Regions from separate parts of the Homo sapiens genome. Here region 1 is linked to region 2. The links come from fine-mapping of genetic effects on gene expression. A gene starts in region 2. The other region holds a variant in brackets. All regions are shown on one strand. Distances are between the middles of the regions. Region 1 overlaps CDH15 (cadherin 15). Region 2 holds the start of GAS8-AS1 (GAS8 antisense RNA 1).

Evidence for each region. PIP is the estimated chance that this variant, and not a neighbour inherited with it, causes the effect. A credible set is the group of variants that fine-mapping cannot tell apart.
Region 1: its variant is the best candidate, but not a certain one, in a credible set for the expression of GAS8-AS1 in gastroesophageal junction (GTEx, PIP 0.70).

What each region holds. Positions count from the first base shown.
Region 1 is chr16:89,193,711-89,197,929 of GRCh38, forward strand. CDH15 (cadherin 15) reads left to right here. Exons shown (of 14, transcript NM_004933.3): 13 at 45-203; 14 at 1,152-1,782. The coding sequence ends at 1,445. It overlaps SLC22A31 (solute carrier family 22 member 31), which reads right to left. Exons shown (of 9, transcript NM_001384763.1): 8 at 3,588-3,699; 9 at 2,051-2,595. The coding sequence ends at 2,289. Among named protein-coding and RNA genes, the nearest start is that of SLC22A31, 4.7 kb to the right of the region's middle. RefSeq lists an enhancer at 63-728. The variant C/T (reference allele first, on the strand shown) is at 2,044.
Region 2 is chr16:90,027,476-90,031,978 of GRCh38, forward strand. GAS8-AS1 (GAS8 antisense RNA 1) reads right to left here and starts at 2,426. Exons shown (of 1, transcript NR_122031.2): 1 at 1,424-2,426. It overlaps DRC4 (dynein regulatory complex subunit 4), which reads left to right. Exons shown (of 11, transcript NM_001481.3): 2 at 161-247; 3 at 3,824-4,021.

The sequences.
Region 1 (4,219 bases), 830 kb before region 2:
CCACCCGAGGGATGCCTGGCTCTGTTCCACCTCCTCGCCCACAGGACGCCTACGACATCAGCCAGCTGCGTCACCCGACAGCGCTGAGCCTGCCTCTGGGACCGCCGCCACTTCGCAGAGATGCCCCGCAGGGCCGCCTGCACCCCCAGCCACCCCGAGTGCTGCCCACCAGCCCCCTGGACATCGCCGACTTCATCAATGATGTAGGTGCTCCTGGGGACACCCCAGTACACACAGGCACGCACAGGTGCACACACACATGCACATGTACACACCTGCACATGCATGCAAGAACCGGCGCCTGCATGCACTTATGGGCCGTCCCAGAGCACCGCAGAGGAAGATGGTGTGCGGGCGGGAGTGTGGAAGCCCCGCTGCCACCGTCCAAACTGGGCCCTCAGCCTCCACCCGCGACGCGGGTCTTTGCACAGATGGAGTGGCGATGGCCACAGACCCATCCACTGCCCCGTGTCCACCATGGAGGGGGTGGGGGAGCCCCGGGAGCATCCCCTGGGCTTCGGTGGCTGTCAGCGGAATCAGGGCCTCCATAGAAGACCCTCTGGACACAGCGTTAATGATTCCCTGCCATCCACAGGATGAATGTGCACACGGGGAATCTGGGGTGTGGGGCGCACAGGGAACCCTCCTCTGTGCCTGTCTGCACCTGTAGCACCTGGCTCAGAGAAAGCCCCCAGCCAAGGTGTACACCCCCGGTTAGGAGCGTGTGTCCCCACGAGCTGAGAGGACAGACATGCAGACAGAGCCTCCGAAAGGCAGACGGGCCGTTCTGCGGATGGGGGTGTCCAGGAGGCTCGGGTTCTGCCTTGAGTGGACAAGGGCCACGGGGAGGAAGAGACCAGGGTGAGGGGGAGCAACCCCTTCCCACCTTGCTGGGGCAGGGCAGAGCCCCGGGGGACGGGCTGGCCGCTGGCCTAATACTGAGGAAGGGGGTAGTCCGTGGCACCCTCTTCACAACCCTGCTGCTGTGCCCTCAGGACGCTTTGCCTCCCCTCAGACCTCGCCCCCGGACGTGGGCAGCTTCCCCTTCCTGAGCCCGTGCCTTGAGCTGACTTTGCCCTGGGCTGTGGCCACGGCGGTGGGGCACCCGCTGGCCCCTCCATGTGTCTTGAGCTCTCCGGGCCTCTTTATAGGGCTTGGAGGCTGCAGATAGTGACCCCAGTGTGCCGCCTTACGACACAGCCCTCATCTATGACTACGAGGGTGACGGCTCGGTGGCGGGGACGCTGAGCTCCATCCTGTCCAGCCAGGGCGATGAGGACCAGGACTACGACTACCTCAGAGACTGGGGGCCCCGCTTCGCCCGGCTGGCAGACATGTATGGGCACCCGTGCGGGTTGGAGTACGGGGCCAGATGGGACCACCAGGCCAGGGAGGGTCTTTCTCCTGGGGCACTGCTACCCAGACACAGAGGCCGGACAGCCTGACCCTGGGGCGCAACTGGACATGCCACTCCCCGGCCTCGTGGCAGTGATGGCCCCTGCAGAGGCAGCCTGAGGTCACCGGGCCCGACCCCCCTGGGCCTGGGGCAGCCTCCTTCCTGTAGGCGAGGGCCCAAGTCTGGGGGCAGAACCTGAGTGTGGATGGGGCGGCCAGGAAGAGGCCCCTTCCTGCCGGGGTGGGAAGAGTTTCTCTCCATCGGCCCCATGCGGGTCACCTCCCTAGTCCCACCTTTGCCTCCTACCAGTGAACCTCATCTTTGTATGAAAGACAGCAACCTCCTGGGTAAATCTGAATGAAAAACGTGCTAGTCTCTTTCATGCAGGACGGGCGCCCACTGCCACACTGACCATGAGGGGGATGGGGCCAGTGAGGCCTGGCCTGGCAGGGACCTGAGGGCCAGGCCCCCATACCACCCTGCTTGGCTGGGGCAGGAGGCGGCCGGGGGCTGCCACTACCTGGACAGGGGCTATGGAGCAGCCGCTGACACCCTGGCTCCTTGCTGGTGAGCCCAGAGGTGGGGAGCAGGCACAGGTGAGACCCTTCCAGGCCCCAGGTGTGGCCTGAGGGAAGAACCAGGGAGGA[C/T]GCCAAGTTCCACAGAAGCCTTTATCCTCCACACCTACTGGGTGTGGCTGGGGGGAGACCCAGGGCCTCCCAGTGCCTGGGGCCTGGCTGGAGACACCTTCACGCTGTCCCCACGGCTCCACCTGCACTGAGACACGGGCTTCTGAGAGGAATGTGTCTGCCCTGGACCAGACGTCTGGGGTACTCAGCCATGCCCCAGGCCTTGACTTTGGTCCCATCCTGGCTCCCAGGGCCACCAGGCAGGACTAGTGCTGCTCGGGGGTGTGGCCGGCCCAGTAGGAGTTGGAGGGCGGCAGCAGAGGCAGGTGGTCCTGGCGGGGGCGGCCCCGCAGGAGTGGGGAGCGGCGCAGGCGGTCGGCGTCCTGCAGTGACTGGGGCAGCCCCCGGCTTCGGCTCTCAGGCAGCAGCAGGACACACAGCAGGGCAAGGACAGCAAGGGAGGCGAAGACGACTTGTTGCAGGAAGAAGCCCTGCCGGCCGTGCAGGGTGTCCAGGGGGCCGGCTGCCTGGCCCAGGAACCCGGCCCCCAGCACCAGGCCCAGCCCGGCCCCCCTGTGGGACAGAGTGTGTTGGGGGCAGCCAGCCTCCTGGCCCAGGAACCCGGCCCCCAGCACCAGGCCCAGCCCGGCCCCCCTGTGGGACAGAGTGTGTTGGGGGCAGCCAGCCTCCTGGCCCAGGAACCCGGCCCCCAGCACCAGGCCCAGGCCGGCCCCTCTGTGGGAGAGAGTGCGTTGGGGGCAGCTGGTGGGGCAACAGATTGGGGGACACACATGTGACTCCAGAGTGAGCAGGGGGAAGGCCCGGCCTCCGCACAGCCTAAGGTTTGCTGGCTGAGGATAATTTGAAAAATTGTTTTGGAAAAACCTCCTTCCTCTCCTGGAGCACTTTTTGCTCTGTTCAAGACTGGAAAGTGGCCGGGCACAGTGGCTCATGCCTGTAATCCCAGCACTTTGGGAGGCCAAGGCAGGCGGATCATGAGGTCAGGAGATCGAGACCATCCTGGCTATCATGGTGAAACCCTGTCTTTACTAAAAATACAAAAATTAGTTGTGCGTGGTGGTGGGTGCCTGTAATCCCAGCTACTCAGGAGGCTGAGGCAGGAGAATCGCTTGAACCAGAGAGTTGGAGGCTGCAGTGAGCTGAGATCACACCACTGCACTCCAGCCTGGTGACAGAGCGAGACTCCATCTCAAAAAAAAAAAAAAAGAAGAAGAAGAAGATCGAAAAGTGATGCTTTCCCCGAGAATTCTGCCATTTCTGGAGGCCTCCTCATCTCTGCCCCCACCCCGCACTCCTGGCTTCAGGCCTGCGTGGCCTTCCCTCCCCTTCCCAGTTCCTGAGCCGTCTGCCCAGAGCCTTCTGTGAGCAGTGGCCCCCACCATCCAGGAGCAGGGCAGTGCTTTACCCCGAGTCCTTACTGGATGGAGGAATCACAGGCAGGAACCTGGGTGGGGTATGGGGACAGGGCCTCCTGTCCACCTGGCCCCTCCTCCCCATGAGAGGCCCTGGACCCTGCTGTGTGGCCGGGCAACCCTGAAGCTCACCTGATCACCGTGGGGAAGACCTCGGCCGCGAAGAGGCTGCTGAGTGCGGACACAGCCCGGGAGGCCAGGAGCCCCAGGACAGAGAGGAACAGCACAGTCCAGCCTGGCAGATCTGGGGACAAAGAACAGGGGTTCCCAGGCTCTCTCCCCAGGCCTTCCACCCTGGCCACTCAGGGCCCTTCCCCAGAGAACCACACCACTGTCTGGGGACCCACTTTCCAAGCCTCCTTTTCCAGCCCCCCTGAGAAACCTGGAGGGGGAACCTGTCCTCTGCAGCCTGATTCCAGCCTGGCTTGGATTCTAAGGATGTTAGAATCCTGACCCCGAGCCGCAGCCACACCGACCACCTCCACTCGGGCCCACGCTCAGCTACTGCTGTGCTGTCCACTGTCTTTGCAATTTCGAGAACCGTCCTAAAATCTCGAATACGTTGGAAGCAAGGCCTGCATTTCATTTTGCACCTAGCTCCACACACCATGTGGCTGGCCCTGAGTATATGGGCCCTCCCACACCAGTCCATGGCCGGCCTCGGCCACCTGGAACTCTGGGCAGAGCTTTTACCCAGCCCGGCCTCTTGACCTCTCATGCCTGTGCTGCACTCTGTGGCTGGGGCAGGTGTTTTAGGCTCAGAC
Region 2 (4,503 bases):
GGTAAAGGGTGGGAACACTCAGGGCAATGATGTGCTCCAGGTGAGCAGAAGGGAGAGAGGTTCCAGAACCTTCTCTGCCAAATGTTCCTGGGAGCAAATCAGAGCCAGCCAAGAAGGGGAAGCTGTTAGAGTCTCTCTTACCCCATTATTTCCACCAAAGGCACCGAAAAAGAAAGGGAAGAAAGGCAAAGCCAAAGGCACCCCGATTGTCGATGGGCTCGCTCCAGAGGACATGAGCAAGGAGCAGGTGAGCAGAGCGGGCTGTGGCCCAGTCCCCGGGTGGGCGTGGGCGGGCACCACGCAGGGTGCCTACGCCGAGTGTCCATCTTGCCATGTGGATCCACCCTTCTGTCCAAGCCAGAACACGCCCCCCGCGTGGCCCATAATTCCCATCAGCGGCAAAGCTTTCGGCTGCACCATGTCTTTTCAGAAAGGTAGTGCAGCCTGTGAAAGAGCTTTGTAACAGGGTGGTAGGAGTGTGGAAGGACATGCTTTTCTGATCTAAAAGCTGTTTTTAATTTCGTGTATTCTCTTTCAATCTTACCCTTTTTTTGCACCTGATGTGTATAGACTTATCGTAGAACACACATGTAGCATTCTCCTTTATTTTATTCACCATTAAACATTATGTCAAAAAGGAAGTTTTTGAAAGAAGGATGATTTACTTCAAATCACATCTGAATCTGATTAATCGTTCATTTTTTTTTTTTTTTTTTTTTTTTTTTTTGAGACGGAGTCTCACTCTGTCGCCCAGGCTGGAGTGCAGTGGCGCGATCTCGGCTCACTGTGAGCTCCACCTCCCGGGTTCACACCATTCTCCTGCCTCAGCCTCCCGAGTAGCTGGGACTACAGGCACCTGCCACCACGCCTGGCTAATTTTTTTTTTGTATTTTTAGTAGAGACGGGGTTTCACCGTGTTAGCCAGGATGGTCTCGATCTCCTGACCTCGTGATCCACTCGCCTCGGCCTCCCAAAGTGCTGGGATTACAGGCATGAGCCACCACGCCTGGCCAGTCATTCATTGTTTTTGATAAAAGTCCCAACAAGGAGTAACAGCATCAGGGCTGCCTTTTTCTTGTTGCTTATTTTGGGGAGGAGGTGATGTTTTTATAGTTTCTTTGTAGGAGTTAGTTTAAGTCTCTTCTTCATTTGGATGTAGTTAAGGGCTACAGAACATAATTACATAATTACAATTTTACCTAAAAGGCTCCTGGAGACGGCAGTGTGTGGCAAGCACGGTGCACCCTCTGGCCTCTGCCCTCATGGACGACTGCCTGTGAGCACCTGACATGGGACATGAGGGCTGTGTCAACTCTGTGTTATTGTTAATAAATCTTACCTTCTTTTGATAGTTGTAAGATAAAAAATCAATACGAAGGAGACTGAAAGAGTCTCATGACCTGAAGTTGGAGCTAGGCAGAGGTCCTTGAACAATGGTAAAGAATGGCTTTATTTTACATGCAGGCAAACCATTGGCAGTTTAAGCCAGTGGCTAAGCAGAGAGGTGATGGGGTCAGGTTTGTGTTCTGGAAAGATGTCTGGAGCTGCTGGATGGAGAATGGATTGAACACTGCGTTGTCCCAGCATGTGAGCTGCTGCCCGTCTCCCTGTCCGCTTCCCATTCCTGTGGAGACAGGCCTTGTGGGGCAGTGGCCATGGAGCCTACGGGGCAGCCTACGGGGCAGGCTACGGGGCAGCTTACGGGGCAGGCTATGGGGCAGCCTACGGGGCAGGCTACGGGGCAGGCCCTTGCACTGCACATCGCACGTTGAGCCACAGACTCAGAAGGCTTCTTCAGGGTCCAGGCAGGTGGGGAGGGATGGGGGTGACCTGGAGACTCCTGCCCCGCAGCAGAGGACAGTTTCATCTGTTCACTGGGGAGTGCCTTGTGGGCCTAGGAGTTCAGTGCTGTTTTTTTCTGATTTTCCAAGAGAAGCTGGAAATCTGGATATTTATAAGAAATCTGAATATTGAGTGATGGCAAAATCTCAACACCATGTGAGCCAAACAGACCAGTCAGGAGCCCTGGTTCAGGCTCTGCCCAGGAGCCTCTAAAGGTCTGTGACGTGAAGACATTTGTCGTTGTGCCGAGGCACTGGTTGGATTCGGGGGTGCGTGTCTCCCTCATGTCTGCCCGGCATCCTCGGCTCAGAACCCCTCCTGCTGCTCCTTCTTGTTTGCTCGTTGTCTTGTCTTCTTTTGAGGTGAGAAATGTGTTTTCCCTGTGGGGAATGTGGTGTTGAGAAAGAAAAAGGCTCACAGTAAGTGGCCTGGGGCTGTGCCCGAAAAGTAACTGATTCTGACGGAATCTCGCTGTGTGGCCCAGGCTGGAGTGCGGTGGCGCGACCTCGGCTCACTGCAAGCTCCACCTCCTGGGTTCACACCATCCTGCTGCTTCAGGCTGCCCAGTAGCTGGGACTGCAGGTGCCTGCCATCACGCCCGGCTAATTTTTTTGTATTTTTAGTAGAGACGAGGTTTCACCGTGTTAGCCAGGATGGCCTTGATCTCCTGACCTCATGATCTGCCTGTCTCTGCCTCCCAAAGTGCTGGGATTACAGGTGTGAGCCACCGCGCCTGGCAGTAACTGATTCTTAAGGGAAATGAGCTCCCGAGAAAGCTGGAAGCCTGTCCTACATTTTTTTTTAACCTATTTGCAGATTCGCAATTGAACCCTCTTGAGATTTTAGAGTCTACTGGTTTTGTATATTTTTTGCTTAACATTATATCTTCAAAGGTGAATTTTTTTTCATTTAGCATTATGATATGAATTTGTTTAAATGCTGCTACATCATTTGCATATTTTTTTTGGGTTAATGTGATATTTCTCCTAGTTGATATACTCTAATTTTTCAACCATTTCCATATTTATTTATTTATTGTTTAGAGACAGGGTCCTGCTCTGTCACCCAGGTGGAGTGCAGTGGTGTGATCACGGCTCACGGCAGCCTTGACCTCCCAGGTCCAAACGATCCTCCTACCTCAGTCTTCTGAGTAGCTGGGACTATAGGCATGTGCCACCACTCCTGGCTAATTTTTTTTTTTTTTTTTTTTTGTAGAGACAGGGTTTTGCCATGTTGCCTAGGCTGTTCAACTCTGGGGCTCAAAAGATCCTCCCAAAGTGGTGGGAGCCACCATGCCTGGCTGTTTGTGTATTTTTTGAGACAGATTCTCACTCTGTCACCCAGGCTGGAGTGTAGTGGCATGATCATAACTAACCGCAGCCTCAACCCCCTGAGCTTGAGTGACCCTCCCACCTCAGCTCTCCCAGTAGCTGAGACTATAGGTGCGTGCCATCATGCCTAGTTAATGAAAAAAAGTTTTTGCAGAGATGGGGTCTTGCTATGTTGCCCAAGCTGGTCTTCAGCTCCTGGGCGCGAGGGATCCTTCAACCTCAGCCTCCCAGAGTGCTGGGGTTGCAGGCGAGAGCCACCGCGCCTCGCTTATTTCCCTGTTTAAACTGGTCTTAGGTTATTTCCTTTTTGATATTTTTGCTGTTGTAATAATGGTGTGGGTAATATCTTTGAGCAAGATGCTCTTATATTTCTTTTGAGAAATTTTTTAGGCATCAATTCTCAGGAATGGATGAAAGGATCTAGTTATTTTATGATTATTGGCCAAATTGAAGAGAATTCTGCCACCTGCTGAATGCATTCTGTCTCCGGAGCTTCCTAGCCTTATATTTTAACTTTTTACATTTAGCTGTTTATTTTTAGGTGAAGTTGAGTCCTCCCTCTTTCTTCCTTGCCTTTCGCCGGCCACACGCCCCGTTGCCGTGCATGGGCCCCTGCTCAGTGCCTCACCTGACCCACTGCACCTGGCCAGGTGGAGGAGCATGTCAGCCGCATCCGGGAGGAGCTGGACCGCGAGCGGGAGGAACGAAACTACTTCCAGCTGGAGCGGGACAAGATCCACACCTTCTGGGAGATCACACGGAGGCAGCTGGAGGAGAAGAAGGCTGAGCTGCGGAACAAAGACCGGGAGATGGAAGAAGCCGAGGAGAGGCACCAGGTGGAGATCAAGGTGAGTGGGGCCGGCCTGCACGTGCTAACCTGGTCACCACAGAGCCCCAGAGGAGCTGGATCCAGTGAGGGTGCAGGTGGGACATTTTCTGTTCTTGGCTTTGGGAGTCACAGCCTTAAAGGTGTTTTTTATAAAAGCCTGAGGGAGAGACCCTGCAGGTCCTGAGGGTTTAAAATGCTGCCTCCACAACATGGAAGGAATATGGGCTCTGGGGGCAGACTGGCCTGTTTGCAACTCAGCTCTGCCACTTAATACCCCATGAGCTGGGGATGCACCTCACCTCCCAGCCTTGGTGTCCTGCTCTGTGCCTCAAGTGTACAGGTTTGCATAGGTGAACAGGCATGTGTAGCTGTGTAAAGGTGAGGCATGCAAGTGAGCAGGTGGATGCAAGTGAGCATGTGTGTGCAGGTGAGGAGGCGTGGCCAGGTGAGGAGGTATGTGCAGGTGAGGTGTGGGGAGGTGAGCACGTGGGGCAGGTATGT